7 separate regions of the Homo sapiens genome follow, and regions 2, 3, 4, 5, 6 and 7 are each linked to region 1. The links come from fine-mapping of genetic effects on gene expression. A gene starts in region 1. Each other region holds a variant in brackets. All regions are shown on one strand. Distances are between the middles of the regions. Region 1 holds the start of VENTX (VENT homeobox). Region 2 overlaps TUBGCP2 (tubulin gamma complex component 2). Region 3 holds the start of LOC105378573 (a long non-coding RNA gene). Region 4 overlaps CFAP46 (cilia and flagella associated protein 46). Region 5 overlaps KNDC1 (kinase non-catalytic C-lobe domain containing 1). Region 6 has its middle 51 kb from the start of LINC01168. Region 7 holds the start of LOC105378574 (a long non-coding RNA gene).

Region 1 (4,295 bases):
CAGCAGCACCCCCGCCGCCTCCCAGGTCACATGCGGAAAGGGGGCTCAGAGAGGGGGCTCAAGAGGGGAGGGAATGTTAACAGCAGCTTGGGCCTGCCCTCCGCTCAGTCCACTCAGTTCCGCCCCATCCCACACTTCCCTTCCAGAAGCCGGTTCCCAGGATGCCCTTCCCACAGCCTTCCAGGCCGGTAAGGTAAGAATCCATTATATGCAAAGGCCTGGCGACCCACCCAGGGGCACCCATCCCTGTCCCGGGCTCCGTCTCCTCAGCCAGCGGAGGCCAACTCAGTTAATCCCCAGGCCCACTGTGGTCAAGTCTGTTTCCTAATTTCTAAGTTAAGGAATGGGGGCTGGCACCAAACGGCCCCACGAGGTGGTCTGTGGAGCTGGGTCTGGGTCCCAGGAAAGGCCAACGTGGCCAATCGAGCTCGACATTAAATGCAAGTCTGACCAAAATGCTCGCTGGAGTTTCTGCGGAAGGAAGCGTATTTTACAAAATCTGTCTTAACGTTAGCCTGAAAGCACATGGTAGACCCAAAAAGCAAATGCCTTCTGGCAGGGAGGGCTGTAGGACTGGCATCAGAAAGGGGGTTGCGGGACAGGGATGGCTGGCTTTTTTGGGGTGGGGCAGGATAGCTAGCTGGGGAGAATACATTTAAATTTTCATTTCCCTTAAGTACAAAGTCACTCCATAAGGATCAGTCAAATTTTTAAAAATGAAAACTTGTAGATGATGTCAACCCCACTTTTGACCAAGTACTACCTTAAACCTAAAAGTGGTGATGATGTCACAAAGACTAAAACACAAACGCAGAGAACCTTTGTTCTCAGCAGACAACAGAGCATCTGGGCGGCCACAGAGGGAACTTCAGAGTTTCTGCAGGCATCGGGGTCACCGCCACCCCTGCAGCGAACCTGCAGGCTCTTTAAAGACAGCTGTGCTCCAGGTGACCCGGAATGGGCTTGAGCCTAGACGCTGAGCAGGCACCGGCTGTGCTGGGGGGCGGGGGCGGGGGGCTTGGCAAATCATCGAGACTTTCAGTGAGCGCCCGGAATCAGGGCAGGGAGGTGCGGACGGGGACCCCTTGGACGGTCCCTCGGCACCAGGCCGGGGTGGGGGACGAAGACACAGCTGAGGAACGGGGTGACAAAAGGAGGCAGAGGAGCCCACCGGGGGCTCAAGGAGAGGAAATCCCCGTCAAGGCTTTGGTTCCGAGGGAAGCTGCGCTCCAGTGAGGGCGCCGGCAAGGCCTCCGCCGGCCCTCATGGAAACGCCCCCGGCCCTGACCTAGTGGGCAGGGCACCGCGGGGAGTGCAGCCGCCGGGCTCCTGGCCTCTCCCCCACTCCCATCTCCACCTGGGAAGGAAGGGACCCCCCCCACCCGGACCTACCGGCCATGGTCCTCTCCGGCGCAGGCAGATTTGAGGACCCGGCGGCCTCCTTGATGCTGACGGCCTGAGGGGGCTCCCGGGCGCCGGATGTCTGGCCTGGGCCAGGGAGGCTCCCCAGGGAGAAGTCGGCAGGCCTGGGGGTGTGGGTCGGCCCTGAGCAGCTGCTCTGGGAGAGCCAGTCCACGGAGCCAAAGCTGGAGAGCTGCTGCGGGCCACGAGGTGGGGAGGAGGAGAGGCGCATGGCGGCCAGGTGGGCCGGAGGGAAGGCCAGGCGGGGCTGGCCAGGCGCAGGATCCACCTCGGGCCTCGCCAGGCGGCGGCGTTTATAAGCCCAGGAGGAGGGGGCGGGAGCCCGGTTTGCATACACGGCTAATGCCCAGATAAGCAGCGCCTAATTGCCTTCGATTCAGAGGCACAAAGGAGGCCGTTCACACCTCCCCGGCTCCTCGATGTCTGGGGGAGGGGCGGGGCTGCGGGCCCTGGTTAATGGAGAGGCGATGGTTCGGGATCGGTCACCTCCTTTCATCTCTCCCAACCCCCCACCCCGCGGGCCGAGGCTGCAGGAAGGTAGGAGGGTCCCACTCCCACTTGGGCCTGTCCTGGGAGGTGCCGGGCGACCTCTCCTCTCCAGGGGGACGCTGGCGCCTGTGCCCAGCCCGGACACCCGAGGGCGAGCAGGCTTCAGGCTGGGAGAGTCAGGGCGGACTTAGGTTGGGAGCAGGCTTCGGGGTGGGAGAGTCAGGCCGGTGCCCGCGTGCGCTGCGTCCAGGCTGTGCGGCCGCGCAGGAACCGAGGGAGGCTTTCCCGGGAAAGAGACGCGGAGGACCCGGGGAGCGGCGCGCGGGGGCGGGAATGTCGGGAGGGGCCTCTCGGGGGACTCGGCCGCCTCCAGCCCTAATCCGGCTCCTCTGGGGGACTCACTCCGGGGCCATCGCAGGAGCCTCTGCATTCGGGCGCGGGCGGCTCCCTGACTCCATCCCGAGCTGGAAGGGCCGGAGCCACTGCCTCGCACGGCGGGGTAGGAACTCCGCGTCGGCGGCGGGACTGGTGCGTCCCCGCCAAGCCAGGCTGTCCCCACTGTGGCCAGGGCGCGGGCAGAGCCGCCGGTGACTGTGGCGCCCAAACCTCACGGGGACGCCCTGAGCACGGGCCCCCGGGACGGTCATAGCCACGCGCGGCCGCTGCTCCCACGAACCTGAGTCCCGAGCTGTCTGCGTCTCCGCGTCCCCGGGTCGCCTGCGCGTCGGCGTGGGGCGCGGGGACCGACGTGACCGGGTGGGAGGCAGCCATGCCGAGGGTAGGACGGTGTCTTCCGCGCACTGGCTTGGGGTCCGCACGGCGTCTCCGGCGGCCGGAGTTAGGCGGAGGCGCAGGTCCGGCCCCCGAAGCCATGCGGGGTTTCGGCGCAGACGCGGGGTCCACGGAGCAGCCCCGACTCCCGGCCAGGTCCTGACCGCGGCTGCCTCAGCGCCCACGCCGCCCGCGGAAATCAGAAAGACCGGCGGGCCTCGCCCCACGGTTACGCCCGCCCCAGCCAGCCGAGCCTCCCGGGCTGAGCAAAGAGGTTGGAGCCCGGGAGGCGGGCGCTGGGGCGGGACCTCAGCCGGGAACCGATCGGCGGCCTACCTGGGGTCACAGGAGAGGGGTCGCGGAACGGACCGTGCCGCCGCTGACCCTGGTCTTCCTCGGACCCTGCCGGCCCAGTTAGGTCACTGGGCCCTCAAGGGGGAGGCTGGCGGGGGTGGGGCGCTGGGGGCTTTGGACGTGGCCTCGGGGGTAAAGCCAGGAGGGGTGGGGGGCCAGGAAGCCGGCCTAGACCCCCGCTGCACTTCATCTCCGGAGAGACCGGGTCACCCCCGGTAGAGGGGCTTTGAGCCACTGCACAGGACCGGCAGTGTGTCCCGGCCAGGGGCAGCGAGGGCCCAGATGCCTGTGGCCACAGGGCTGGCCCCGAGGATGCCCCATGGGGCAGGTCCCCAGCACTCCCGCAGTGGGGGCGGTGCCTCAAAGTGGAGCAAGACAGCACACCTCACACATCCCGCAAAAACATACAGAACGTTCGACAGGCAGGGAAAAGGCCCAGAAGCTTCCCTTACATAAAGAGGAACACCACGAGCATGCATTTCCGAAACGCCAGCACCCAGCCTTCCATTTCTCCATTTCTAATTTCCGGGGCCCAGGGCCCCGGTGTCTCAGCCCCCTTCTGTACGTGGTTCAGCACCCCCACCCCCAGCTCTACATAGAGCCCCTCCTGCCGGTTTCCCAGCCCCCCGCCACCACCTCCACCTGAACCGCCCCCTCCGATCCCCCCAAGCCCGAAGACAACCTCACCTTCACACGGCAGGGTCAGGCAGCCCCTCTCTCCTGCCCAGCGGCCCCACCACCGTGGCTCAGGCCTCCCCGCCTCCTGCAGCCCGGGCCCCTCCCTCCACCCTCCCTCTAGAGCCCGCCGAGGCTGCTCTAGCCCAGGCTTGGGGGTCCCCAAAGCCTCCGCCTCCAAGCCTCCGTCCACCCCCGGCTCTGGGACGCGCCCTGATGCGCTGCCATGGGTAGGAGACTTGGGCGCCCCCCTGCCTCCTTCCTCCCAGCCCCTGGGGCAGCCCAGCCCCGTGAATTGCGCCCCGCACGCCCCAGAGCGTGGTCCCCGCGGGCGTCGCCCTGTCCCCCACCCTCGGGGGCCAGGCCGGGTTGCGCTGGGCAGGAAGTCCCGCGTCACTCCCAGGCCGACAGCACCGCCCCCACGCACAGCCCGGAGTCCAGCTAGTCCCCGAAACGCGCTCCCCCCGAGTCCAGGGCCTGAGGACAGACACCGGGCCCAGCGCGTGCTGCCGGCCCCGTCGCGACTCGCCCGAGCCTCCTCCGAGCACTCTGGGACCACCTGAGGGGGAGGCCAGCTACTCAGG
Region 2 (4,295 bases), 48 kb before region 1:
TGGGTTTGTCTTTGTTGGAGACTTTTGAGGGGGACTTGGCCCCTTGCTGGCCACAGGTCTGCTCAGTCCCTTTCCTCTTGGTCGGCTGTCTGTCTCGCATCTTGTCTGGTGCACAGTTCATGGGTTTCTAGTATCTGCTTTTTATTTCTGTAAGATTAGTAGTTATATCCCTTCTTTTTCTGATTTTAGTAATTTGAATCTTCTTTCGTCTTAGCTGATGTAGCTAGAAATTTGTCGATTTCATTATCTTTTCAAAGAACCAACTCTTGGGTTTGTTGACTGTATTTTTCTGTTTTCTCTCTTCTGTCATCTTTGTTACTCCTGTCTGCTGCTTAGGGGTTCAGTGTGGTCTTCTTTTTTCTAGTTTCTTAATTTGAAAAGTTAGTTTACAGCTGTAAACATCCCTCCGAGTGCAGCCTTCGCTGATCCCCTAGCGTCATAATTTCTGTTTGTCTGGAGGTGTTTCTGATTCCCTCTGATTTCTTGTTGGAGCCGTGGGTGGTTTATGTTTAACTTCCACATGTTTGTGAAGTTTCTGGTTTTCCTTCTGTTGCTTGTTTCTAACTTTATCTCCTTGTTAGAGAACAGACTTTTTGTGATTTCAGTTTTGTGAAATGTATTGATTTGTGTAGTGGCCCCACATCCATCCTGGAGAGTGTTCCGTGCGCGCGGGAGGAGGATGTGCCCTCGGTTCCGTGCGCGCGGGAGGAGGACGCGCCCTCGGTGCTGTTGGGGTGGTGTTCTGCAGGTGGGTTGAGGCCGTGTCTTTCCTCACTGATCGTCTGTCCGGCGGTTCTCTCCGTGGTTAGAAGTAGGGCACCGAGTCTCCCTGTCACTGAAGAACTGCTTTTCTCCTTGTCATTCTGTCTATTCTTGATTCAGATATTTTGGGGTCTCTTGTTAGGAGCAGGAATATTTTCGTAGGAAAAATTCCTGGTAGTGAAATTGTTGGGTCACAATACATGGCCCTTGTATGACTAGGCTGACCTTGCTGGAGTTGATGGAGTCCAGTCTCAGGACGCTGCTGTCTGCACACCTGCGAAAGCTCCCACCTTGGCTATTTGATGGACAAGTGATGTCAGGGGCTCATTTCTGCGTTTGTGATGGTCACGATTTCGTCTGTCCGCTGCTTGTTTCTTCTTGCTTTATCCCCTGCCCTTCATTTCCTGTCCTGTCGTTGTGCGATGGTTTTGTAGGAACTCTGTTGCGGGTGGTTGGAACTTAGCAAATACTCGAGTGATTAACGTGAGGACAGTATTACTTGCTTATAATAACTATTATGTCCCTCGTCAAATATGCTTCATTTTTCAACCTGGGCCTGGTGCTTATCATGGTACAAAGGTTTTCGTCCTAAGGAATCACGTTTCTTTCACCGTCCTTAGCGGTTTTTCCCTTATACCACCCACAGCAGCAGTGGGTATTTACAAAGTAATTCATCTGAATTTTTGTTGTTTTGTTCTGATGGGAAGTGGTTCAGTTTTGAATTTGATTTATCAGTAGATGTTTGGGTTTTTGAAAAGCCTCTGATATTTAGAATCGGAATGTAGGGAACCTTACGTCAGCGCTGGGTCTGTGAGCGAGGATGGCGATCGGGATGCGACTTCGGGTCTTTTCCTTAAAACTGGATGCTTTGTTTCATTTCCTTCCCTCCAAGATCGACCTGATGCCCCATGACCTCATCACTCAGCTCTTGCGCGTCCTGGCCATCGAGACCAAGCAGGAGAAGGCGATGGCGCACGCCGACCCCACGGAGCTGGCGCTGAGCGGCCTGGAGGCCTTCTCTTTCGACTACATCGTCAAGTGGCCCCTTTCGCTCATCATCAACAGGTGCGGGTCGGCTGCTCGGGCACCTGCCAGATCTTCACTCAGGTTTGGCAGAAGCGAGAACTGTGCCACGCGGTGGCCACCTCGTCCCACAGAGGACCCAAGGCGGCTCTCCCCGGCCTTCAGTGTCCGAGAGATTCACGGGCTGTCCGGGGGCCACGGTGCGGACTGTGGAGTACAGACGCCGTGTCCACGACGCCGCCGGTCACGGAGGCCCACCTGAGGTGCCGCCACGTCTCTTGCAGGAAAGCCCTCACTCGCTACCAGATGCTCTTCAGGCACATGTTCTACTGCAAGCACGTGGAGCGGCAGCTCTGCAGCGTCTGGATCAGCAACAAAACCGCCAAGCAGCACTCGCTGCACTCCGCCCAGTGGTGCGTTCTTCCTCTGCCCCCGCATGCCCTCCTGAAGCAGCGCTCGCTGCACTCTGCCCAGTGGTGCAG[C/T]GCCCCCCTTGTGCCCTCCTGGTAGACAGCTTTCTAGGCTTCTGGAAGTGTCATCTGGAAGCGCACGTTGGTGGCTTTAGATCCATAATGCTTCATTGCTTCATTTTCCTGTCTTGGGGCTGCACGGCGCTGCCGTCCACCCCACAGGGGATGCTGGCTCTGTCCCTCAGCCCTCTCTGGAGCCTTGTGGTGACTGCACGGGCATGGAGACTGCCCAGGTCGGTGTGCAGGACACTAGCTCCTCCCGAGAGCGGACAGCCACATCTTGCTGGGACCAGAGGTGCTTTGCAGCCGGTCTGTGCCTCTAGGGTGTTGAAAAAAGGGGTCGATGGCAGAGCTTCATAAGAATTTGTCCAGTCGGGTGCAGTGGCTCATGCCTGTAATCTCAGCACTTTGGGAAGCTGAGGAGGGAGGATTGTTTGAGCCCACAAGTTCGAGACCCGCCTGGACAATGTAACAAGAGCTCATCTCTTAAAAAAAAAGAAAATTATTTTAATTAGCCGGGAATGCCTGTAGTTCCAGCAACTCAGGAGGCTGAGGTGGGAGGGTTGCTTGAGTCCAGGAGGTCAAGGCTGCAGTGAGCCAAGATCGTGCCACTGCACTGCAGTCTGAGCGACAGCAAGACCCTGTCTCTCGAAGAAAAAAAGAAATTAGAAGAAAAAGAACTCATCTTGATGATGAAGCACAAATATGCATCTGTTGTGTGGCACTTTCCTGGCGTGGGCTCCGAGGGGTCCGTCCACCAAGGAGCCCGCGTCCCAGTCTCCACCGTCCAGCTGGCTGGGGGTGTCCCTGCAGGGCACAGGTTGGTAGACGGTGACAGCTTGTGCTGGGCAGACGCAGGAGCAGCGGCCGTGAGTGTCTGGTGTGCTGGGAGGGGCGCTTGCTCTGCAGAGGAAATAGCCACGTCCAGAGAACGTCCTCCATGGCTGTCCTCCGTCCTCCGTGTCACTTGGTGGGCGCTGTCGGGGCCGCGTCCTCCATGGCTGTCCTCCGTCCTCCGTGTCACTCAGGTTTGCTGGGGCTTTCACTCTGCGGCAGCGAATGCTCAACTTCGTCCAGAATATTCAATACTACATGATGTTTGAAGTGATGGAACCGACCTGGCACATCCTGGAGAAAAACCTGAAATCCGTGAGTTTTAGCTCCACAGATAATAACGTTTGAAAGCCACTTTCCTTTCACAGGGAGACAGGAAGTGCAGGAGAGGCAGGGCGAGGGGAGAGGCAGGGAGTGCAGGAGAGGCAGGGAATGCAGGGAGACGCAGGGAGTGCAGGAGAGGCAGGGAGTGCGGGAGAGGCAGGGCGTGCGGGAGAGGCAGGGAATGCGGGAGAGGCAGGGAGTGCAGGGAGACACGGAGTGCAGGAGAGGCAGGGCAAGGGGAGAGGAAGGGATCCCCCAGGGCGGGGCTGCACCCACACTGCTGGCCACACACGGGACCCCTTGCTGCCTGCCGTCCTAGGGGGACTCTGAGCCGTCTTTGCCCCGAGGTTGTCTCTCCCACATTGCGCATCTGAGGCTGAGGGGCCTGAAGGCAGAATCTGTTGGTACCAAATTCCAGAAGCTGCCGCAGCCTCCCTTCCTGTCTTCTGCCTTAAGAAATGAAACCCCTTCGGGGTGTGCCCATCATTTTTTTAGTGGTGTTTGGAAGTTTTCCCCTAAAAGCCCAAGGCCCATTTAAGAGGTAGAAGTGCGTAAACAGGAATGCACAAAGCCAGAACTGAGCACGTGCGCATGCAGGGCCCGTCTGTCAGCCACGTCTTTCTGAGAAGGGGCTTGGCCTGTTCCCCGCAGGCCTCCAACATTGACGACGTCCTTGGCCACCACACAGGCTTCCTGGACACCTGCCTGAAGGACTGCATGCTCACCAACCCCGAGCTGCTGAAGGTCTTCTCCAAGCTCATGTCTGTGTGCGTCATGTTCACCAACTGCATGCAGGTGCGTGGGTGTGGGTAGCACCATCGGGTGGGCAGGCGCGGGTGGGCAGACCATGTCCCGACCGTGGCCGCACGCAGCCTGCTCACGTTT
Region 3 (4,295 bases), 20 kb after region 1:
TGGGCCGGGGAGAGACAGGGCGTGGTCAGTGCAGGAGCCTCAGCCGGGGCCAGCGCAGCCCAACCAGTCCCAGCGGGTCCTGCGTTCTCCACGCACGGGGTCTACCCGGCTCTCTGAATTAGCTTCCAGTCCCGAATGTTCCTGGATGGTTGGACTTGGCTCACACCTGCGGGGTCTTAAGCTTTCACGGCCCTGACAGCCGCTGGGAGGTTTTGTGCCTCCTGCTGCTGAAATGGTGAGTCCCTTTCCTTGCTCTCTGCTGGACTCCAGGAAGTGCCAGGTAACCCAGCTTCCCTAAATGAGACCCCGGCTGACCAGAGCAGGGCCCCGTGTCTGCGTGTCCAGCAAAGACATGCAGGAGCCGTCCCACCCGTGGACAGCTGTGGCTGGGGCTTGAGGCCGAGCTCTGAGACCCAAGACGGGGACAGGCTGTGGCTGCTCTGGGACTCGTCTGAGTCATGTTTGGGGATGGCTGGTCACTTCCAGCAGCAATTCCTTGTTCATCATCTCATGAGGCCACCCCTGCCGTCCTGGAGGAGGTCCAGGTCGGTCAAGCTCAGGCCCCAGCCACAGACCTCAGTGCTGTCCTCTGGGCACCTGTGCTCTGTGTGAGGAACTCAGACCAGCAAGGCCCCGGGACCGAGCAGGTGGGACACCTCTGCCCAGGTGGCAACAGAGGCCCTGCCGGGAGATGACTCCAAGGCCTCCGTGAGGCCACCCTGGCTGGGCCACCTGCACACACTCTGTGGTGCCTGCGTCTGGGTGCGGCAGGCTCTGCACAGCAGTTCGTTTAGGAGAGGGCCTCGGGGGACCAAAGCCGCCCGGCCACGTAAAGTGCTGGTACCTCCACGGCTTTCAGCTCCTCCATGACCTCTGCTATCTTTGCAGGCAGAATTCTCCAGGCCTGAAATGAAAGCACAGGTGAGCCTCCTGCGGCCGTGCGGGTACCCACCCCCGCCTTGGGGCCCGAGGGGGACGCACAGGGGACTGCCTCACGGCCAGGTGCTCCAGCCCGCTCAGGATCTGCATGGCTGTCGCGAAGTTTCTCTGCTCATAGCAAGATTTTGCAATCAGCAAAAATTTGGACAGCAAGTTCACCTGCAGCTGCAATAAGAAAATGACACATTCAGCGTCTTCTGGTTTAAGATGAACAAAGGGAATATTTGAGAACCTGTTAAAATCACCCAGCTCCAAGACACAAGAGCGTGTGCTGCATCACGTGTGTGGAAAGGAAGCGGCTGTGTGGACGCAGGTGAGCGGTGGCCGTGGAGGGGCTGGGCTGGCGGGACGGGGTGGGCATGACTTGAAATAAAACAAAATAAAAGCAAAGCCTGATACGCGGAAAGACTTGAAAAGAAGTCCACCCTCACTTCTCAAAAGCAAGATTGTGCCTGGATGCACCTCCCCAGGCAGCTTCAGGACTGGGAAAGGCGACCCCACCCAGGGAGAGGCCGCTGTCGTGTCCACAGGCAGATGGGGAGCCACAGGCAGCTCCGTGCCCACCCCCCAACCCGCTGCGCCAAGCCCGTGGCAGGAGTGTTTGGGTGCAGTCCGGGGTGGGTGCCTGAGTGCCGCCCCCTCCTCCGGGGCTCTGTGGCTGGCGGTGACGACCTTGCTGGCCTTGGTTGGAACACCCCATGGGTGGTGAATGCCTCACCCAGCAGGATTCCTATTCTGAGCAGTCCCAAAGGGCTGCGTTCCTGGATCCACTTCCAGGGCTTCAGGAAGATTCTGGAGAACTCAGCTGACCCCTCCTGTTGTAGCTGCCTGTCCCTGAGGAATCACCTTGGCCTGGGCCATCCTTTGGTGGAAACCAAGGCTGCAGAGTCCAGCTGGACGCCATGCCCCGGATCGACTCTTTTTTTTTTTTTTTTTGAGATGGAGTCTTGCTCTGTGGCCCAGGCTGGAGTGCAGTGGCGCGATCTCGGCTCGGTGCAGCCTCCACCTCCCGGGTTCAAGTGATTCTCCTGCCTCAGCCTCTCAAAGTGCTGGGATTACAGGCGTGATAATTTTTGTATTTTTAGTGGAGACAGGGTTTCCCCATGTTGGTCAGGCTGGTCTCGAACTCCTGACCTCGTGATCTGCCCGCCTTGGACTCCCAAAGTGCTGGGATTACAGATGTGATAATTTTTGTATTTTTAGTGGAGATGAGGTTTCACCATATTGGCCAGGCAGGTCTCGAACTCCTGACCTCATGATCCACCCGCCTTGGACTCCCAAAGTGCTGGGATCACAGCCGTGATAATTTTTGTATTTTTAGTAGAGATGGGGTTTCACCATGTCAGCCAGGCTGGTCTCGAACTCCTGACCTCATGATCTGCCTGCCTCAGACTCCCAAAGTGCTGGGATCACAGGCGTGATAATTTTTGTATTTTTAGTAGAGATGGGGTTTCACCATGTCAGCCAGGCTGGTCTCGAACTCCTGACCTCGTGATCTGCCCGCCTCGGACTCCCAAAGTGCTGGGATTAGAGGCGTGAGCCACCGCGCCTGCCCCCGGGCTCAACTCTTGTCTGCAGGGCCCCTGTGCAGCTGAAGGCGCCTCATGTGATCCTGGGCTCACCCCGACTGCGGCCCCAGCCCTCTTGCCTGAGCGCCTTGAGAGGAGCTTGAGAAGTGTTTACCGGATACACT[T/C]TCTACGCTGACGTCTCAGTCTGTTTCTTCATCGGTTTAAGTAGATGCAAAGTATGTAATTTTGAGATAAAACTATTTCGCCACACTTTTTCACTGTTGTTTTAACCTTTTGATTTTTAATTGTAAAAAGTATGTAATAGAGGATTTACCTTTGTAGCCTTTTCTGAGTGCACGGTTCAGCCGTGTTAACTACATCCACACTGTGCAGCATGTCTGCGACTCTCCATCTTCCCAAACGGAAACTCGGTCCCCGTTCAACACGAGCTCCCCGTGCCCCACTCCCAGCCCCCGGCGCCCACCCTGCTACTTTGTCTCCGTGAATCTTGCGCCTCCAGGCGCCTCGTGTACGTGGAGCCGTCCACTGTCCGTGCTTCGCGACTGGCTCGTTTCCCTGAGCCTGAGTCCCTCGAGGTTCATCGTGCTGCCGCAGGCGTCAGAATTTCCCTCCTGTTAAGGCTGAATAAGTTCTCAAGGTACAAAGAGGCCGCATTTTCTTTATCTGTTCTTCTCTCCGTGGACATTTAGGTGCCTCCACCTCTTGGCTATGGTGTTCCATATTTTTAAACAAATCTAAAGAAACCAAAGCCCTATTCTGCTTTCAAACTCCCCATTTTTATTTTTTATTTTTTTTGAGATAGGGTCTCGCACCGTCGTCTAGGCTGCCGTGGTGCAACCTCAGCTCACTGCAACCGCCACCTCCTGGGCTCCAGTGATCCTCCCGCCTCAGCCTCCTGAGGAGCTGGGACTCCAGGTGTGCGCCACCAGCCTGGACAATTTTTTATATTTTCAGTAGAGACGGGGTTTCGATATGTTGTCCAAGCTGATCCCAACTCCTGGTCTCAAGTGATCTGCCCTCCTCGGCCTCCCAAAGGGCTGGGGTTACAGGCATCAGCCACTGCGACCGGCCTGCGTTTTCTTAAGGTGAGAAATTTTACGCTGTTTCTTCCTGCTTCTGTTTCCACCTTGTCTCCCTCCAGACGTCGTCTAAACGGTGCCACCAAGACATTGTCTGAACGGAACCACCGACCCCCCATTTTCTTCAGGTGAGAAATTTTATGCCGTTTCTTCCTGCCCTTGTGTCTCCACCTCGCCTCACTCCAGGCATCGTCAGAACGGAGCCACTGACCCCCGAGCATTTTTATTGATCACTGCTGCCCTCTGTGCTCGAATTTTGTATTTTAATGATTTTCTGGGGTCCTGAATTTACAAATGTGAAACTCAGTGTCCTGGATTGTTCCGACCTCACAGCCATTGAGACACAATACGTCAGGACATCGTGGCTCTAACACTTGTTAGATGGACGAGCGTGGTGCTTTTAGAAGTGGGTCTCCGGCGAGGTCCGTCCGCTCCCGTGAGGAGGTGAGGGGCCTGTTCTGAGCGATCCGCAGCTCCCTTTTGCTAACGGGGATGTGGCAGCAGTGCCGAGCTCTGTCCCGGCCACGCTGGGTGCCAGCAGCCCTGGGTGTGAGCCTGCACGACTCTTGCCCACCCTGCAGACCTGTACACGGGTGCGTGACCAGGACGAGCGGCCATCCCGGAGACCCTCAGGCAGGGCCGCCGCAGGCTCGAGGTGGGTCTCAGGCTGGGAGGGGCAGTCCTCCACCCGCTGGGGCAGCTCGGGGTGAGGGTGCGCCCAGGACGATGTGGGTTGGCCAGGTGACAG
Region 4 (4,295 bases), 300 kb after region 1:
TTTATTTGAACTGTGGGGTTTCCCCTCGTTTGTGGTCTGTGATTTTCATGCACGTGTGATCACTCCCTCATCTCGTCAGCGTGTGGACAGGCCACATTCATGCCGAATTCCGAGTAACAGCCTCTTTTGCACTCGGCGGTTTTCGTGATTTTAGATGGCTGTGAAGAGTCTGTTTTCTGCCGGGCGTGGTGGCACATGCCTGTAATCCCAACTGCTGGGGAGGCTGAGGCAGGAGAATCACTTGAACTCGGGAGGCGGAGGTTGCAGTGAGCCCAGATCACGCCACTGCACTCCAGCCTGGATGACAGCGAGACTCTGTATCAATAAAAAAAAAAAAAGAGTCTGTTTTCTCCAGGGCCTCCCCGGGCGCACCCCCAGGGCGCCTTCTCCTTCCCCACGGTTCCTTCTTCGGCCCAGCGTGCCTTTGCTGCTCCCTAGCGGACAACTTGGCCAAGGCCGCTGTCCCTGCGGAGGCGACTCCAGCACTTTCTACAAAATCAGTGCTTTCTGCACAAAAACAAATATCATGCTTCAAACTGTTAAGCTTGCACAAAACTGATTCATATCCTATTCAAATCAGTTTTGTGCAAGCTTGACAGTTTCAAGCATATTTGCTTGAACATATATCACATATTCAAATAGGATACAATGTTTGGAGGATATTTAAATAGAAGCTGTGGGTTCCCTGGTCTGTTCTACCCACATCGGCCTGCTTGTCTGCTGGTGGCCTTCTCTGGTCACACCCTGTTGCAAGTGCTGGGGATGTAGGGCCCAGCCCCACAGATCCTCTCTGCATGGGGACAGGGACGGGGAGGCCCCACCTCAAGCCACAGATTCTAAAGACAAGGGGTATTTCCAAGGGTGCTGTGACGCGGGAGTGGTGGGTACCATGGGAAGGAGGCTGCTCTGCTCCAGGGCCCTCAGGGGCACTGTGGACGGGTCAGGGGGTGACAGAGCCTTGCCAGAGGTCAGGACCATCTTTGGGAAGGGTCCAGGTTGTGTGGAGAGAGAGGGCAGCGCTGGCTTGTCCAGGGCAGTGTCAGTGGGACAGGAGACTGTGAGCCCAACCACGGGCATGTGGAGGCCACAGTGGGAATTTGGGGAGAGCCACTTACAGGGAGGAGACGGGTTCCTTTCGAGACGCAGCACTCAGGGAGACGCAGCACTCAGGGAGACGCAGCAGGCCGCTGGAGTCCCATGATGACCCCTCTGACTCAAGCAGGCGTGACCGTCTGGTCAGGACACCCCGCACCTCCGCTCCTCTCCTGAAAACCTGGAAACAGGATGAGTCCTGTCCTAGGGTCACGTGGTGGCTCTGAGTAAACTCAGAGGAGTGGGCTTGCCACAGCCACCCTGGTGTCCTCCTCCCACCTGGGCATTGAGCAGTGCTGGTCCACCTGGTGGCCGGCCCAGGACCACAAGGCACACAGGCCCTACATGGCAGAGCTGGCCTGCCCCACTGTGGAGTGGCCCTAGAGTGAGAAGGGCAGATGGGCCCGGATTCCCTTACTTCAGTCCCTGCAATGCTCCCTGCTGCCCAGGGAGAGGCCCAGACCCCTGAGAGGGGTCTCTGCTCACTCTTCCAGCCCACCCTCCTCCACTTCACACTCTATGCTGGCAGACGGGAACTTTGTTTCCCAAAGGTTCCTCCCTTCTCCTCCATCTTCCTGACCTTCTTTTCCTCTACTACTGTCTTGGCTGCCTCCTGACATCTTTCAGGTCACAGCAGGCATGTAACCTCCTCCAGGAAGCCTTCCTTGATTCCCTCTGTCCTTGCCCATTCTTGTCTATCCCTTGAGAGTCAGAGGAGGCCTTGCCCAGTGGTGTATTTTCATGGGAGGGGGCCGATCAGTTTGTGGAATAATTGATGAAGAAGGCCCTGGTCTGGACTCGGGAGCCTGTGGCCGGGTCATCACAGCCGGGCCTGCGCTGGAGCCATGGCACGTCGGACGCAGGGTCGCCCAAGGCTGTCCCAGGGAAGGGCTCTGCATCCTGGTGCTCCTGCAGGCTGGGCCAAAGCTTCTCAGGTGGGGCTGCTGCCATCTGCTGGAGAGGACCTGAGGCCCCTCCTGGGAGGGGCTCCGGAGACACAGCGGCCCCTTGGTTCTGCAGCTTGGGCCGGCTGGGCTTTGAGCG[T/C]GCTCTCTGCTTCCTCTGCTCGCGCCGCAGGTACTACTTTTTGGTGTACAATGCATCAGTCCTCTACTGGCAGATGGTGAGGCCGTTCCTCAAGCCTGGATATCGTCACCATCTGATCCCCAGCCTTTCCCAAATCATAAACGTGCTGAGTCAGACTGAGGAGGAAGACAAGGAGTGGCGTGCTGAGCTGATGCTGTGAGTTGAGCTCGCCGTGCCCTCTGTGGCCTCCCGGTGGGCCGCCCTCTGGCTCTGAGGCCACCACCCCTTCTCCGGGGGGGGGACGGGAGTTCCACATCACTGGGGCACACTCCATGTGCGTTCTCTCCCACAGTCACAAGTTTCTGTGTGTCTTGTCCGAAGGTCGTTTCCAAAATCTGTAGATGACATTTGCCGTGCCCTGGTTATGAGGTTATGACAACAGAACAAGATACTGTGTTTAGACTCCCAGCAAAGCAGATATGATCCTGCCCCACGCAGCCTGGCTCACGGTTTTACAATCTTAGTTCTTAAAATGGTAACGCAGTAGACGTTTTAACAGCGTAAAACTAAGCAGAGTCAGCACATGCGGAGCCCAGGCAGCCCTGCGAGGAAGTTGGGGCAGCACAGGGCAGGCCGGCCTTGCTGGGTCTCAGCCCTGAGGGGTCACCGCACAGGCTGTCACCAATGCTTCGGTCACTGTGCCGGGCGGCGGAAAGGAAACGGGTCCGAGCCTCTCTGTGTCTGCGGCACTCTCTGTGCAGGCTGGGGACGGGTGGATGTCCCCATTGAGGATTCCAGCTGTGCCAACTCCAGAGCAGCTCCCCTCGGCACCAAGCCCACAGCCTGCAGGTGTTGGTTACTTGCCATATGGCCGTTTGGGGAACCTTTGAAGAATATCAATACAGATCTTTCATTTCAAAATGCCCCGGTGCTAGCGGTAACGAGCTGTCTGGCACCTGCTGGCCCTTCCTGGTGAGCCACACAGCCTGGTTCTGGCTGAAGAAGCTGACCCCAGGGTAGCTTTTAAACTTTGTGAAACACAAAATATGTAATGGTTTAATAACCTGGTTATTAGATAGGAGAAAACAGTTTCAACCAGGTTGACCAGTGGTGTGTTTCTATTATCCAGGGAACTTCTGGAGTGTTATCTGCAAGCCGGAAGAAAGGAGGAGGCTGCCAGGTTCTGCTCCACGGCAGCTCCGTTCATTAAGTCTCACGTGCCACAGAAATACCGGCAGATATTCTCTGTTATGGTAAATCAGCGTATTAGAAATAGAGACGTAAGAAGTAATTTTCTTAAAAGTCATTGTTCAGAAAACTGCGTAGAAATTACATAAGTTTGCTGAGAGATATAAAAATCTATATGCATACATACATGAACAAAATTACATAAGCATATTAAAAAGAAATAGCAGTTCATCCAATGCAAAGATGTATAGAACTGTGACATTTAGAAAACAAAACAGGGTCTTTTGCCTTTATCGTCGCTCTTTAAATATTTCCTTTGTAATAGCTTTGAATTTTTTTAAAGTTAATAGAAAATTCACAAAGATACAAGTAATTACTACAAGAATATGTACCAAAAGCATTCATTCATCAGCAGTCCATTTTGACATATGGGGAATCAGCTTAAGTTGTATCTGAAAAGCTAGATACAAAATTAATGAGAAAATAAAATCTAGACACAAAATCTGAACCTCTACCGAATTGTTTGAATCCAGATTAATAATCTGCTCCATTTTATGACAGGTTCGTCATGAATTAATGGACGAACTTCAGTTAAAGGAAGAAAAGAAAAATTCCATTAGCCTGTCAGTCACTTTCTATATTAATATGCTAAAGGCGTAAGTCGTTTTGGGAGGGAGAGCAAATACTGAGTTTCACAAGTGCTGGGCTTGGGAGAGCTCTGTCCCCTCCATGGGGGGAGGTCCTGTGTCCAGGGGCCTGTGAGTCTGGAGTTGCAGTGAGTGGGGCTGGAGAATAGGAGCCTGGGAGACCTCAGGGTGTGGGGATCCGAAGGCCACCCCAATTCCTGGCCCTGCCTCCCTCCCAGCACAGAGGAGAGGCCAGTGAGGCCACAGAAGGGAGAGGGCGGCTTTAAGCCAAGTGCAGAAAGAGCCTGTAGGAGGAGATCATGGTGTGTTTGGATGCCGAGGGGAGTGAGGAGATCATGGTGTGTT
Region 5 (4,295 bases), 57 kb after region 1:
CACCCATGCCACCCATGCCCTTGCCGCCTGTGCCCACGCCGCCTGTGCCCACACCGCCTGTGCCCACACCGCCTGTGCCCACACCGCCTGTGCCCACACCGTCCGTGCCCACATTGCTCGCACCCACGCCACCCATGCCCTTGCCGCCTGCGCCCATGCCACCCACGCCCACACCACCTGCGCCCACACTGCCCGCGCCCTCGCCGCCCGCGCAGTTGGGCCTAGATCTGTGCTGGCCATGGCCCCGCCCCTCTGCGCTTTCTGGAGGGACACAGACTCCTCTGGCCTTTCAGTGTTTAGGTCAAAAACTTCAAAACCTCAAAAACTGGATTTCAGTAGAAGGAAAGATGGGTTTTTCTTTTTGTTTGAGAGTCTGGGTTTTCCTCCCTTGCCTGAGAGGGTGGGCTCTGCACGAGGTCCACCCTGGACACGGCCGCACTTCAGGCCTGGACACTTCTTCCCAGGACGGCTGCCTGTGGGGCTTCACCTTTCCCACAAGAGGAAGCAGAACGCAGAGCGGCTCAGGAACCTGCCTGGGGCCACATCGCAGGTCACACAGCTCATGTGTGGAGCCAGGACCTGACCCAGGGCCTGCTCTGCCCCCGCACCTGTGCTCCCAAGTGTCCACTCTAGTCCAGGCTGGCTGAGTGGACACGCACCTGCATCCTGGGCTGGCTGAGTGGACATGCACCTGCGTCCTGGGCTGGCTGAGTGGACGCGCATCCGTGTCCTGGGCTGCCCTGGCCCCAGGCCTCTCCCTGGGTGGTCTCAAGATATCGTCACAGAACCCTGAGACCCACCTCCCCAGTCCGTCGTGAGGTCCAAGGTGACCAGCGGAGCATCCAGTCTTCACAGAAAGCCCTGCATCCCGCGGCCCCAGGCTAGCTGGTCATCCTGGCCGACTCCCCCTCTCTGTCAGGGTCTGTCTCAGGGTCAGGCTGCAGGGACCCAGCCAGATCCCAGGGCCCCTGACTCCACCTGAGCCTGGCTCCAACCACTATCACCAAGCTCATCCAATTCTGCCTCAAACTCCTTTTTCTCCTGAGATGTCTTATTTGAACAAGACAGAAAGTGTCACAGAGAAGAAACCAGGTGCACCCAGCACCCCACACTTTCTTCTCTGGGGCATAAACTGCCTCGCAGGTGGTTCCACTTCCACAGTCTGGTGTGTGTGTGTGTGTGTGTGTGTGTGGACGGTCCTGGGGCTTCCTGGTCTGGACACGGGCACACATGCAGACACATACGTGCACACCCAGCACACACAGACAGCTGGACACGCATCTCTTCTCTCTCCCCAGCTGCACTCTGCCTGCATCCTGGCTTTTTCATGGCGTGAATCTCCTTCCCGGTCAGGAACCCCGGCTGACCTTCTCTGTCCCATGCCTGGCCCTGCCTCCCCCGCAGGCTGGTTTCTGCTTCTCCTCTACCCTCTCCCTCCTGCACCCTGCCTGGTGCCCTGGGGCAGCCCACCTGGCACACCAGCCAGGCCCCCGGCCGCTGGCCATCCCCACAGACTCCCTGCTGTGCACGCACCTCTGGTAGGGGACCTGGCACCTCCCTGTCCCCTCACGGCTCGCCTGGCACCGGCCCCAGCCACTGTCTCTGACTTTGCACCTTGGGCCAGGAGCCCCGATAGCTGCTCTGCTGCCAACTCCTGGGGTCTCCTGTGCCATCCGGGGGGGACCTGCCAGCCTCTCGTGCCTGGGCCAGGGTCCGCCTCCCTGGGGGACCTGTGACATGCATGTTTGGGCACACAGGGTCCGTCCCCTCCGCTCTGATGCTGCTGTGGGTGCTTCCCATGTTCTGCTGTCATGACCGACACTTCCCTGGGTGCCCCATGTGGCATCTGTGGGTGCCCCGTGTGGCGTCAGTGGGTGCCCCATGTGGCGTCAGTGGGTGCCCCGTGTGGCGTCTGTGGGTGCCGCGTGTGACGTCAGTGGGTGCCCCATGTGGCATCTGTGCAGCCATGTCAGGTGTGCAAAGCCTCAATTCCAAGAAGGGGGATGCTGGGTCCCAGGTCACCTCCACTTACAATTCTGACAGCTGCGACAAACCCTCCTGATAAATGACCGTCCGGTTTACTCACCAGCCGCAGCCAGTCTCTGCGGCTTTGCCAATCTGTTAGAGTAAACTCACTCGTCGAGTTAATTTGCATTTTTGTAATTATGAATGAGACCAAGCATCTGTTCGTATCTACTCGCAGTTTTAATTTTTCCTCTAAATCCCCATGCAAGGACTATGCTTTCTCCGCTGAGGTAGGACTGCCGAGCGCCCCTGCGCATCAGGGCTCGCCTCAGCCTGGGCGCCGCACACACGCTTGCTGTGTGTGTTGCCAGCTTCTAACGTTGTGCGTGTGTCTTCTCACATCCAAGAGCTCTAAGTGCCCATGTGTGGAATCTGACCTGTTTATCTTCAGCAGCTTTGCAGGAGGATGTTCTCCACCCCGAGGCTACAGGGACAGCTTTCCTTTGTTTCTGCTAATATTTTTATAATTTTAA[G/A]ATATCCAGACCTAATCTGTTTGAAGCCTCACTCTCTGGGGTGTGAACTTGGAGGGCACCCTCCGGCTGGCACCATAAGGAAGGGCTCCTCCTGCCCCTGAGACGCTATCCTTGCAGCCGCGGAGCCTCACATCTCCAGGTCTCTGCATGGCCGCGGGCGAGGGGCCCCTTGGAGCCCAGAGGACGCAGTCGGCCCTCGAGGTGCAGAGCCATACGGGGCCTGCCTTGCACCGATGCAGGGAGCTCAGCATTTCTGCCTTCTGGAAGCTTCTGACCTGAAGGATGGTGCACCCTGAAGGAGGGAAACACAACTGTGTGCTGCCCGCGGGGGTCAGGAGACAGCGATACATGGAGAAACAGATTTCTGTGAGAAACTGTGCTGGAATCAGAAGCTGCAGTATTTGAGCCACCGGCGAAGAGCAGCCGTTTGAGTGAGTTCCCTGGGGGTCATGTTGCCAGGGAAGGCTCCTCTCAGGAAACAAGGACCTCGGAGGCCCCAGGGCAGCAGGACGAGGCTGGACCACGGGCAGGCGTCTGGCAGAGGAAGGGAGGGTGGGGCCCACTCTCCAAGCCTGTGGGCCAGAAAACCTGGGACGCTGTCCTGGGAGCACCGAGTGGCCCTGCCTGGCTGGGCTTGGCCGTCAGCGGAGGGAACAGGCTGGAGGGAGGCCGATCAGGCATGAAATGATCACACCTTAGGCCACAGGGCGACGGGGAGCCGGGTCGAGGAGGTGGACGTTGCAGCTTCCTGCTCCGGGCCTCTCTGTGGTCCAAAGCCTGCAGCTCCCACGGCGCCTGCGATCGCGATGGGCATCCCGGTAGCTCTCGCCTCGAGTGGGGACAGGGCCTGGCCACGCACGTGAAGTGGACGTGAAAACTTCCCCACGAGATGCGATTCCTGAGCAAACGCGGTCAAGCCAAGTGGTTTTCAGTTCAACACTGGTTGAAGTTTTTCTCCAAACTGAAAAGGCCACCTCTCTAGGGGGTAGGAAGCGGGTTACACTCTCCCGAGTCTCGCTTCAGGAAGCCCCTCCTCTGCTCTGCTGGAGATTCTTGGATCAGGGTCCAGGTCAGCCCTGGGAGGCTCTTCGTGGCCCTGGGAAGCAATTCCAGTGGACTTGAGGTGACTGGTTCAAAGAAGAATTGCGGCTGCAGCACTCAGCGTGGTGGGTCCACCACAGCCCGGGCCTCAGGAGGACACTGTGAACACGCACCTGGGGGCTCCCAGGACCGCCTGGGCCCAGACAGGGCCTCACTGGCCAGGGCTCTGCAGACAAATGGTTGATCAGATTTCGGGGCAGGAACCCCATAGAAGGGGCTGGAGCATCCTGCCACACCAGGAAGTGGGTCAGAGCCCAGCAGAGCTGCGTCCCAAGGACCGGGGTGCCTTCTGAGCTTCAGGTGGAATCAGCAGAACAGACAAAATCCCATCAAAGACGTGCGAATCTTAAATTCATAAGATCATAAAACCAAGCTCACTGGTCCACGTTGGAGGACGCTGGATGCACTCACTGCTTTGAAAACAGGTGGATGAAGAGAAGGAGTCGAGCCTCCCACCTCTCTGTCCACAGGGACTGTCTGCTGCGGCTGCCCAGCGTCGATGAGGGCGGCTCTCCTGAGAGCGGGAGCCCTGCTCACGAACCAAGGTGAGGACTACTGTGGCGGCTCGCAGGATTCATGGTGGCTGCTGACGGCTGTCAGGGAGCAGACACCACAGGTCCCCGGTGGGCCCTGGTAGGAACCTGAGTCCTACGGCACCCCTGACTGTCCTGGGCCTGGCCTTAGGGACAAACCACC
Region 6 (4,295 bases), 220 kb after region 1:
TCCGTGTCTACCAGACGCCCATGTGGCATCCGTGTCTACCAGACGCCCATGTGGCATCCGTGTCTACCAGACGCCGTATGTGGCATCCGTGTCTACCAGACGCCCATATGGCATCCGTGTCTACCAGACGCCCATGTGGCATCCGTGTCTACCAGACACCCATATGGCATCTGTGTCCATTAGACCCCCATATGGCATCCGTGTCTACCAGACGCCCATGCGGCATCCGTGTCTACCAGACGCCCATGCGGCATCCGTGTCTACCAGACGCCCATGCGGCATCCGTGTCTACCAGACGCCCATGCGGCATCCGTGTCTACCAGACGCCCATGCGGCATCCGTGTCTACCAGACGCCCATGTGGCATCCGTGTCTACCAGACGCCCATGTGGCATCCGTGTCTACCAGACGCCCATGTGGCATCTGTGTCCATTAGACCCCCATATGGCATCCGTGTCTACCAGACGCCCATGTGGCATCCGTGTCTACCAGACGCCCATGTGGCATCCGTGTCTACCAGACGCCCATGCGGCATCCGTGTCTACCAGACCCCCATGCGGCATCCGTGTCTACCAGATGCCATGTGGCATCCGTGTCTACTAGACCCCCATATGGCATCCGTGTCTACCAGATGCCCATGTGGCATCCGTGTCTACCAGATGCCCATGTGGCATCCGTGTCTACCAGACGCCATGCGGCATCCGTGTCTACCAGACGCCATGCGGCATCCGTGTCTACCAGACGCCATGCGGCATCCGTGTCTACCAGACGCCATGCGGCATCCGTGTCTACCAGACGCCATGCGGCATCCGTGTCTACCAGACCCCCATGCGGCATCCGTGTCTACTAGATGCCCACGTGGCACGTCAGCACCTGGCGCCCGGAGTGGCTGGGGTCTCTGTGAACGGAAGTGGTGTGTGGCCATACATGAGAAATGGTTGGACCCCTCCTTGCCAGGCTCAAGGTGTCCTTGGAGGCTGGCAGCCCCGGCCAGAACCGTGCAAATTTTTCCAAGGTGGCGCTGCCTCACAGGTGCCTGCACATTCCAAAGACTCAGAGAACCGCATGCGGCCCCCTCAGCTGCACGGGGGATGGGGAGACCCGCAGGGAGCGTGGCGACAGGGACTGTGGCGATGGGGAGCGTGGCGACGGGGAGCGTGGCGACGGGGAGCGTGGCGACGGGGACCGTGGCGACGGGGAGCGTGGCGACGGGGACCGTGGCGACGGGGAGCGTGGCGACGGGGACCGTGGCGACGGGGAGCGTGGCGAGAGGGAGCGTGGCGAGGGGGAGCATGGCGACAGGGAGCATGGTGACAGTGACCATGGCGACAGGGAGCGTGGTGACGGGGAGCATGGTGATGGTGACATGTCTGCTGCCCAGTCGGCCTCCAGTCCTTGAGCCTTGGAGGGGCCAAGGGATGAAGGGGGACGACGGTGAGCTCCACCTGTGCCCAGCCCAGCGGGAAGGAAGGAGGGAAGGAGAGCGGTGGGGTCAGTGGTGGGGCAGCAGCTTCCTGGCCTGTTCCTGGCTCTTTCCTGGGTATCTCGATGCTGCGCTTTGATTGTAAATGGTCCAGCACAAAGGTGGAGACGGGCAGCCCTGGCCTGCTCGCCCAGCGGATGAGACCATCTCAGGGGCTGGCAGTGGGGAGGCAGGCGCTGCCTGGCTGGGCCCGCCCTGGATGCAGCTTCTCCACGATGCCCGGCCACGGCACAAAGGACAAGAAACACGTTTGTTCTGAGTCTCTCAAATAGGCATTCTGGAACATTCCCTTCCACCTGACTCTCCCCAGTTCCTAGTCCCCATCGACACACCTCACTGAGGGCCCCAGACTCCTGGAGAGCCATGGGCTGGGCTCTGGTGCTCTAACCAGATCCATCAACTCCAGCACTTTTAGGAAGAGACCCCCCGGGGCAGAGTTCCTGGGTGAGGGCTACCCCGCTCCCTGGCCTGGACCCTGCCCACTCCAGGTCCTGCAGCTGCCATGGGGCGATGCCGGTGGCTCTGGGCCTGGGCTGCAGC[C/T]GCTTGGTTCACGTTCCGGAGGCCCCGGCTCAGCGCCGGGCAGTGGCTCACGGTGTTCTGAGCAGGCGTTCTGGGCAAAAGCGCCTGCTGGGTAGCGCGGCTGAGGCCTGAGGGTGGGTGGTGCTGAGGTGTGTGCAGAGCTGCCTGGGCTGAGTCCCCGGTGCAGGCGGGCAGTGTCTGCAGCGAACGGAGGCCATTTCGAGTTCAGGTTCCCACAGCCAGAACAACCCTTCCCTGAGGCCGGCCTGTGTGCTCAGAGGTCAGAGTTGCAGGCCCTGGCATCTGCTCTCCGCATGAGGCCCAGAGGCCACAGCACACGTGTCTGGGATCGCCCAGTCCCACCTGGGACAGAGGAGCCTGTGACCCCCGCTGTGCAACCTGCCTCCTGCCCTCGAAGCCATGCGTGGGTGCAGTGCCTTCCCCGACGCCTCCTTCCAGGGGTGCGGACTCTGCGGCGGAGTCTGCAGGCTGTTTGAGCTCCCTCCCGAGCCCCCACTTCTCCAGCCTGTCATAGCCCTGCGGAGGGTCCGAGAGGCAACTTCTGCCAGCGTTTAACACAGCTGAGAGAACACAGAAACTTCTCTTTTTTCATTTTTCCAGAAAGCAAACCCAAGTACTCTTGTCCCTGGCCCAAAAAACCTTCCCAGGACCACCACCAATTCCAGAGTGCAGGCCCAGATGCCCCTGCCAGCGTGTACCAAGTGTGAGTTTACCCATCGGGAGGGGCCTTTCGCAGGGTCTCTGCAGCGTCTGTCCCCCCACCCCTCAGTGTCGTGTGGCAGGAACCCCACCTGCGTCCTGGGCGCCCCCTTCCCAGTCGAGACCCCACTCAGGAGCACCTCGGGTTGCCTGCCCGCTGGGTCCGTCCGAGCCTGGCCCCTCGAGGGAGCTTGCTTGAAAGATGCACTGTTTTAATTAACTAGAAAAATGTTTCGCTTTGGCTTTTCAGTAAATATTTCATTAGTAGTGGCGGCGACGTCAACAATACTTCCGGCTGAGGGGCTTTCTTCCTCTAGGGAGCGTTAAAGAAGAGCTGCATATTCTATGCAGCTTCCCTGGAGTTTATGTTCATCCAGAGGCCCATCCAGAGGACAAGACGCCAGGAAAACTGCAACAGAGACAAGGAAAAGCGTGGAGGATTCACCCTGCGGCCCGGACATGTCCGTCCCTGCCAGCCGCAGTGAGGGCAGGTGCACAGGAGAGGCCTCCGGACACGTCCGTCCCTGCCAGCCGCAGTGAGGGCAGGTGCACAGGAGAGGCCTTGGCCTGCAGCGGACGCCCAGGACTTCCTTCCACCGGAGCCGGCCTGGCCTGCAGGGAGCAGCATCTCTTCCTGCCCAGAGGCAGCCCGGGCCTCCCAGAAGCCAGGGAGGGGCTGGGGCTAGAGTGTCGGGCCCCCATCCATCACATCAGCCATGCCATCTCTTCTGTCTCATGCCCAGCAGTGGCCTCGGAAGGCTGACCCAACCAGCAGGCCTCGGGGACCCGCCCTGCTCCATCCCGGCCCTGCCGCCAGCACCATTGGCTGCCTGAAACTCCTGGTCCCCCTGCAGCCCTTGCTGTCTTGAGCCACCTGCAGCTGAGCTGCCTCTTGGCTCCCGACTTCCCCGCCACAGTGACCCTGACTAACCAGGCTGCCCGGGCATGGTGCATACTGAGAGCTCTGGGACCCCCGAGCCTTCCCGGCCCCGTGCCTCCCCCGCCTCCTAGGCGCCCCTCACGTCACCTGTGGGTGCAGCTCAGACCCAGGCACAGCAGCTGCGTCGTGCGTTTGGGCCTGCTCGAGCCCTGCTGGGCCTTGTCTCTGCCCTTGCACAGGCCGGGTTTGGCAGAGGCTCCACTGGAAGCCAAGTGGGAACCTCTGGAGGCGTCCACCGCAGTCTTCACTGCACCTCCATCCTGACGTGTCCTGCCGGGTGGCCTTGGTTGCTGGATGTGGCCTCCTGGTGTCTTAGACCAGAGGGGCCTGCAGAGCCCACCGTGGCTGTCACCCCACGGTCCTGGCAGTTGTGGGTTTCTGGACAGGGTGAGGACGCTCACATCAGACAGGCAGCAGCCCGAGGCCTGGAGCCCTGGGGTGGGGGTCCTTGCTGGAGGCAGGGCCAAGCGTGGTGAGGGCTGGAGCCTTCTCCTCCCACCTGAGCCTCACACATCCCAATGCCCCGAAGTATCTTTTTTGTCAAGGTTTCTGGACCCTGTGTCACCTGCGTGGCTGCAGCCATCTGGGTGCTGTGCCGTGGTCTGGAGTTTGTGCCAGGAGCGTGTGGCGCGCT
Region 7 (4,295 bases), 41 kb after region 1:
GGTGGGCCGTGGTGGGCCCCAGGGCGTCGGGCCTGAGGCCCCCGGAAGCAACTCCAGGTGGGATCGGCTCAGCCGGCCCTTGCTCTACGGGCAGCGCAGATGCCTTCGTGGGCGGGGCGGGGACTGGAGAGCCGGGAGCTGCCGATGAGGCCCCCTCTGGCTGGTTTGCTGGGGCCTGGGGTGGAGGGCAGGGGCGGCCCTGGGCTGAGTCACGCTGCACTGACGCCCCAAGAGGCTCTGGGGCTGCTCCCTGTGGCCCCGGACCAGGCACCGGCCCGTCAGGCGTCTTCAGGCTGGGGGACCCAGCGTGGGCCTCCAGGGAGAGCTTCTCCTCACCTTCTCCCTCCCTCTGGCCGCCCCTCTCCTCGGACTCCTCCTGGGCCAAGGCAGGCTGGTCCCTACGGGAGGAGCAGAGCTCAGGAGGGGCTGCCTGCGCCCGGGACCCAGCAGCTCCGGGGTGTGGGGACGATGCTCACCTGGCCACACTTGCGTTCTGCGCGAGGACAATGGGCTTGAAGTGCGTGGCCTCGGAGGTGAACGCTGCAGGCAGCTGGGTGGCTTCTTCACCGCAGGGGTGCTGGCCGGGCACGGGCCCTGGCACAGCCACAAGCCCGGTGTCGCTGTTCACCGGCAGGAAGCCTGGGGAGCCAGGGGGCTGAGGGTGTGGGCGGGCGGAGTGGCCCCAGCACGTGCCGCACCACCGGCTCATCCCACCCAGTGCTCATCCCACCCAGTGCGTGGTGCCGCGTCCCCTCCCGCATGGCCCTGGGGGCTTCCTCTGTGCTGGGCCCTGGAATGGGAGGGTGGGTGAGACTGGTGCTTGGGGGAGGGCCAGCAGGCGGGGACGGGCCAGCAAGACCAGGCCCCACCAGAAGCCTTGGAGGGGCCTGCTGAGCAGGGCTCAGTACGGGGGTGGGGTGGGCTCTGTGTGGACTCTGGGGGTCTCCAGATGTGGGCTTGGGAGGGCCAGCTGCTGGGAGATGGGAGTGAGAACCTGGAGCTGGGGCCTGAGCGACTGGGAGTTTTGGGAGATGGGGGCTGGCAGGGGCAGGCAGGCTGGGCTGCATGGGCCACGTTGGCCGAGCTCTGGACTTGCTTCCCGGGTTTCCGAGAGGTGCCCGGCTGTGTCTGTCCATGCAGAGGTGGGGGCAGCTGTGGTGTCAGGTGCAGGAGCTGGTGGGGCAGCAGGGGCTGGTCAGGTCCCCACCTGGGCTGGGCTCTGGGGCTGGTGCCACACTGGGCTTCAGTTCAACCACTGAGAAGGCGTTTTGGAGGCTGATGGTCTCTTCCTCCTGGTACACCTGGGGAGGAGGTGACAGCCCTGGGCCAGGTGACCACGGAGCTCCGCCAGCGCCGGCAACACCCACAGGGCGTCCCCCACCACCCGCCGGTGCCGTGGAGCTTCCTGCTGGGGAGGAGCCGGGCATGGCGGCCACACGGCCCAAGCTCTGCAGCGGCTCTGCCTGGAGAGGGAGCCGTTGGGGCTCCTTTGCCTCCCAAGCCAACCAGGTTTCCGTGGGTTCCAGGGAGTGGGAGACGCCAGCACCACCCGAGACTCAGGGCCCACACTCCCAAAGCTCTCTGCGCCCGGGGTGGGTGCTGGGCCGCCGTCCTTGGGACCCTGCCCTGATCCTGATCTGGGTCCCTGGGGGCCACTGTGGGGCCTTTAGATGGGACTCGAGTGTCCCCCTGCACCCCCAGATGCACCCACCCACAGCTCGGTGGTCAACAGAGACCGGGGTGTGGGGCTGCCGGGAGCGGCCAGGCAAGGGCAAGTGCGTCCAGGAGGGAGGAAGCTAAGCGCGGCGGAGGAGGCGGCGGCCTGGCTGTTCTAGCCCACCTGGCAGATGGAAGCTCTGAGGTGGGCAAGGATTTTCCGGCTGTCCATGCCTCGCTGGAGGAGGTAGCTGCCGCACACCTGGAGGGAGGAGACAGTTCACACGTCCCGACAGGCCTCAGCCACGGCTGCACCGTCCCCGTGTCACTGGGTCCCCATCTGAAAAAGCTCAGGGCTGCCAGGAGGGTTTCCTGTTTGTTCTCACCGACACCCAACTACAGGCCCCGGACAAGCCTTTCTTAGAGCATTTCCTGAAAAGGGCTCACAGTCGGCCACTGTCCCCCAGGCTCCCTGGGAGGGCAGAATCCCAAACCCAGCGTTGGCCACAGACCTGGTAGCCTCGTCGCCTGGACACTGGCAGCCCTTGGTCACGTTCGCCTGAGCCCCACGCTCCCTGCCCCCGGCCACTCCTGTCCTCCCTTTATAAGCTCAGGCCTTGTGCAC[A/G]TGGGAACTGAGCTCAGCTTCCCCAGCTCTCAGTAGTTACTGAATAAAATCTGCTTTCACTGCTTGGCAGACGCCCAGCCGTGTCTAGATCTCATCCTCCTGCAGCAGAGGAGGCCTGAGAGGCCCACAGGGTCTGAGCAACCCGCCCAAGACCACAGAGCAGTCGAGGCGGAGACGGCTGGACCCAGGTCCCCAACCCCATGGCCGTCTCCGCTCCCCCAGACACGGCTCCTCCCCAGGAGGTCCTCCTGATCACCCACACCCAGCTCGGCTCCTCCCCAGGAGGTCCTCCTGATCACTGACACATGAGAGTTTGGCTCCTGCCCCACCTGCTGGTCCACCCGCTGGTCCCCATGCCGGGTGCGGGTGCAGGTCCCAGCAGGAGTACGTTAGAACCCAGCCCCAAAGCTTGAGTCCAGCAGGGAGACCAGGCAGGGAGGGGCGGGGCTGGTGGGATCCTCAGAGGAGGTGGGGGTTCGGGGTGGGGGGTGAGGTGTGGAGGCCTCTCTCTGCTCCCCTCCAGCAGGGCCTAAGAGCAGGGGTCTGCACGTGCCCACAGGACACCCCTTGCCCCCGCCCTGGCCTCTTGGACAAGCTGGAGAGAGCGGGCTCCGCAGGAGGAACGGCCATGGTGGGGAGCAGCAGAGACCCCCATGCTGTCCACCCACATGGACGTGGCCATGACGCGAAACCCACTCCCTTCCCCATGCGACGGCCAGGCCGACGTCTAGAAACAGGGACCTAGAAACAGACCTGGTGGCCTCATCACCTGGACACTGGCAGCCCGTGCTCCTCCACCCCCAGCTCAGCGAGGGCGGCCACTGCCCACAGTCCTTGGACCCTGGGCTGGGGCCATGACTGTGGTGTGGTTACCTTGATGGCCTCAGCCGCGGACGGCCGCTCCGGGGCACTGCGCCTGGCCATGTCCAGGAGGAGGGTCTTGAGCCTGCGTGGCAGGGCCAGCTTGTGGTTGCGGGGGACGCTGAACTTGGCTGCGGTCCACAGAACGGCGGCCACACAGTACACAGAGGCCTGGGCGGGTGGGGAGAGAATAGTGTCTACCGCAGGGCTGTGGGCTGCTGTGCCCAGCAGACCTGCCCACCTCAGGCACCCTGAGGGGCACCCAGGCACTGCCCCCACAGAGGGGCTCTCCTCAAGACCCCTCCTCAGCATCTATCAGGCCCCACCCTGGACCCCTGCATCCGCCTCCAGGTCGTGGTCCAGGAACCTGCAGGTCGAACTCTCCCCCATGGTTCTGTCCGCGTTTTAAACACCAGAGGGTTGGAAGCCTCAACTGGACTTTCCCACCTTCCACTCTCCTCACGAAGGCAGCAGCTCGAGGGTTTGAGGAGAACTGGCCAGCATAGCCCCCACCTCACGGACCCGGGAGCCCCCCGACTGGTGCCTGCTCCCGGAAGCCCCCCGACTGGTGCCGTGCTGCTACATGGCTAACAACTGGCTCTCCGAGCGAACACACCGCCTGTGTGCAAACTGAGTTCATCCGGCACGTTGCTGATGTAAGGGATGCACAGCACACCATTTGATGCACGTTTTGTAAGTTCCACAGAGCCAGTCAATTCTCACTGAAGGCTTTCATTGATAAAAATCAATGAAACCCATGTTCATCCACAGTCCACCACAATACACGAGTGCTGCTGACATGAGTGTTGGTTGATGTTTTCATTCATTTCAGTAAATGAGATGGAAGTGAAGCCGGACAGACCCATGCTGGAATTCGGGGCACCCCTCTGAGCGACGTCTTTGCTGAATCAGATGGTCGCGGTTGATATCGTAAGACCATGTCCTCCACCTTTTGGGCTATTCTCAAGGGAGCGGCCACAGACATGACACACTTTTAAGTTTAATCACATCATCCACGTGTTCTCCATCACTTCAGTAAGTCCAGAGAGTCAACAGAACAAGACATTTGTAGCGTTTGCTGCTTTCCCTGGTGTAAGTACTCCCACGTGGCTGACTTCTGGCTACCAATGCAGTGCCCTTGAGTGTGGAGCTG

The links.
Region 2: its variant is fine-mapped to the expression of VENTX in whole blood (TOPMed, PIP above 0.99).
Region 3: its variant is fine-mapped to the expression of VENTX in whole blood (TOPMed, PIP above 0.99).
Region 4: its variant is fine-mapped to the expression of VENTX in T cells (TOPMed, PIP 0.90).
Region 5: its variant is fine-mapped to the expression of VENTX in whole blood (TOPMed, PIP above 0.99).
Region 6: its variant is fine-mapped to the expression of VENTX in whole blood (TOPMed, PIP 0.94).
Region 7: its variant is fine-mapped to the expression of VENTX in whole blood (TOPMed, PIP above 0.99). The same link has a PIP of 0.9 or more in blood mononuclear cells.

The regions. Positions count from the first base shown.
Region 1 is chr10:133,235,253-133,239,547 of GRCh38, reverse strand. VENTX (VENT homeobox) reads right to left here and starts at 1,693. Exons shown (of 3, transcript NM_014468.4): 1 at 1,393-1,693. The coding sequence starts at 1,633. RefSeq lists enhancers at 906-1,509, 1,510-2,114, 2,115-2,718, 3,928-4,295.
Region 2 is chr10:133,282,988-133,287,282 of GRCh38, reverse strand. It overlaps TUBGCP2 (tubulin gamma complex component 2), which reads left to right. Exons shown (of 18, transcript NM_006659.4): 12 at 1,655-1,827; 13 at 2,070-2,198; 14 at 3,281-3,401; 15 at 4,062-4,205. Among named protein-coding and RNA genes, the nearest start is that of ADAM8, 8.3 kb to the right of the region's middle. The variant C/T (reference allele first, on the strand shown) is at 2,268.
Region 3 is chr10:133,215,640-133,219,934 of GRCh38, reverse strand. KNDC1 (kinase non-catalytic C-lobe domain containing 1) reads right to left here. Exons shown (of 30, transcript NM_152643.8): 27 at 982-1,104; 28 at 845-904. It overlaps LOC105378573 (a long non-coding RNA gene), which reads left to right and starts at 1,098. Exons shown (of 5, transcript XR_007062351.1): 1 at 1,098-1,252; 2 at 2,518-2,683; 3 at 3,610-3,675. The variant T/C (reference allele first, on the strand shown) is at 2,633.
Region 4 is chr10:132,936,625-132,940,919 of GRCh38, reverse strand. CFAP46 (cilia and flagella associated protein 46) reads left to right here. Exons shown (of 58, transcript NM_001200049.3): 5 at 2,167-2,331; 6 at 3,245-3,368; 7 at 3,865-3,959. Among named protein-coding and RNA genes, the nearest start is that of CFAP46, 3.8 kb to the left of the region's middle. RefSeq lists enhancers at 1,834-2,559, 2,560-3,287. The variant T/C (reference allele first, on the strand shown) is at 2,137.
Region 5 is chr10:133,178,732-133,183,026 of GRCh38, reverse strand. The region is part of intron 3 of KNDC1 (kinase non-catalytic C-lobe domain containing 1); the gene reads right to left. Among named protein-coding and RNA genes, the nearest start is that of KNDC1, 21 kb to the right of the region's middle. The variant G/A (reference allele first, on the strand shown) is at 2,499.
Region 6 is chr10:133,014,068-133,018,362 of GRCh38, reverse strand. It overlaps LOC112268067. Among named protein-coding and RNA genes, the nearest start is that of LINC01168, 51 kb to the right of the region's middle. RefSeq lists an enhancer at 4,192-4,295. The variant C/T (reference allele first, on the strand shown) is at 2,023.
Region 7 is chr10:133,194,681-133,198,975 of GRCh38, reverse strand. It overlaps KNDC1 (kinase non-catalytic C-lobe domain containing 1), which reads right to left. Exons shown (of 30, transcript NM_152643.8): 10 at 3,155-3,313; 11 at 1,841-1,918; 12 at 1,208-1,301; 13 at 477-639; 14 at 1-398. LOC105378574 (a long non-coding RNA gene) reads left to right here and starts at 2,640. Exons shown (of 2, transcript XR_946511.3): 1 at 2,640-3,835; 2 at 3,975-4,295. It overlaps LOC105378573 (a long non-coding RNA gene), which reads left to right. Exons shown (of 5, transcript XR_007062351.1): 5 at 1,702-1,780. The variant A/G (reference allele first, on the strand shown) is at 2,282.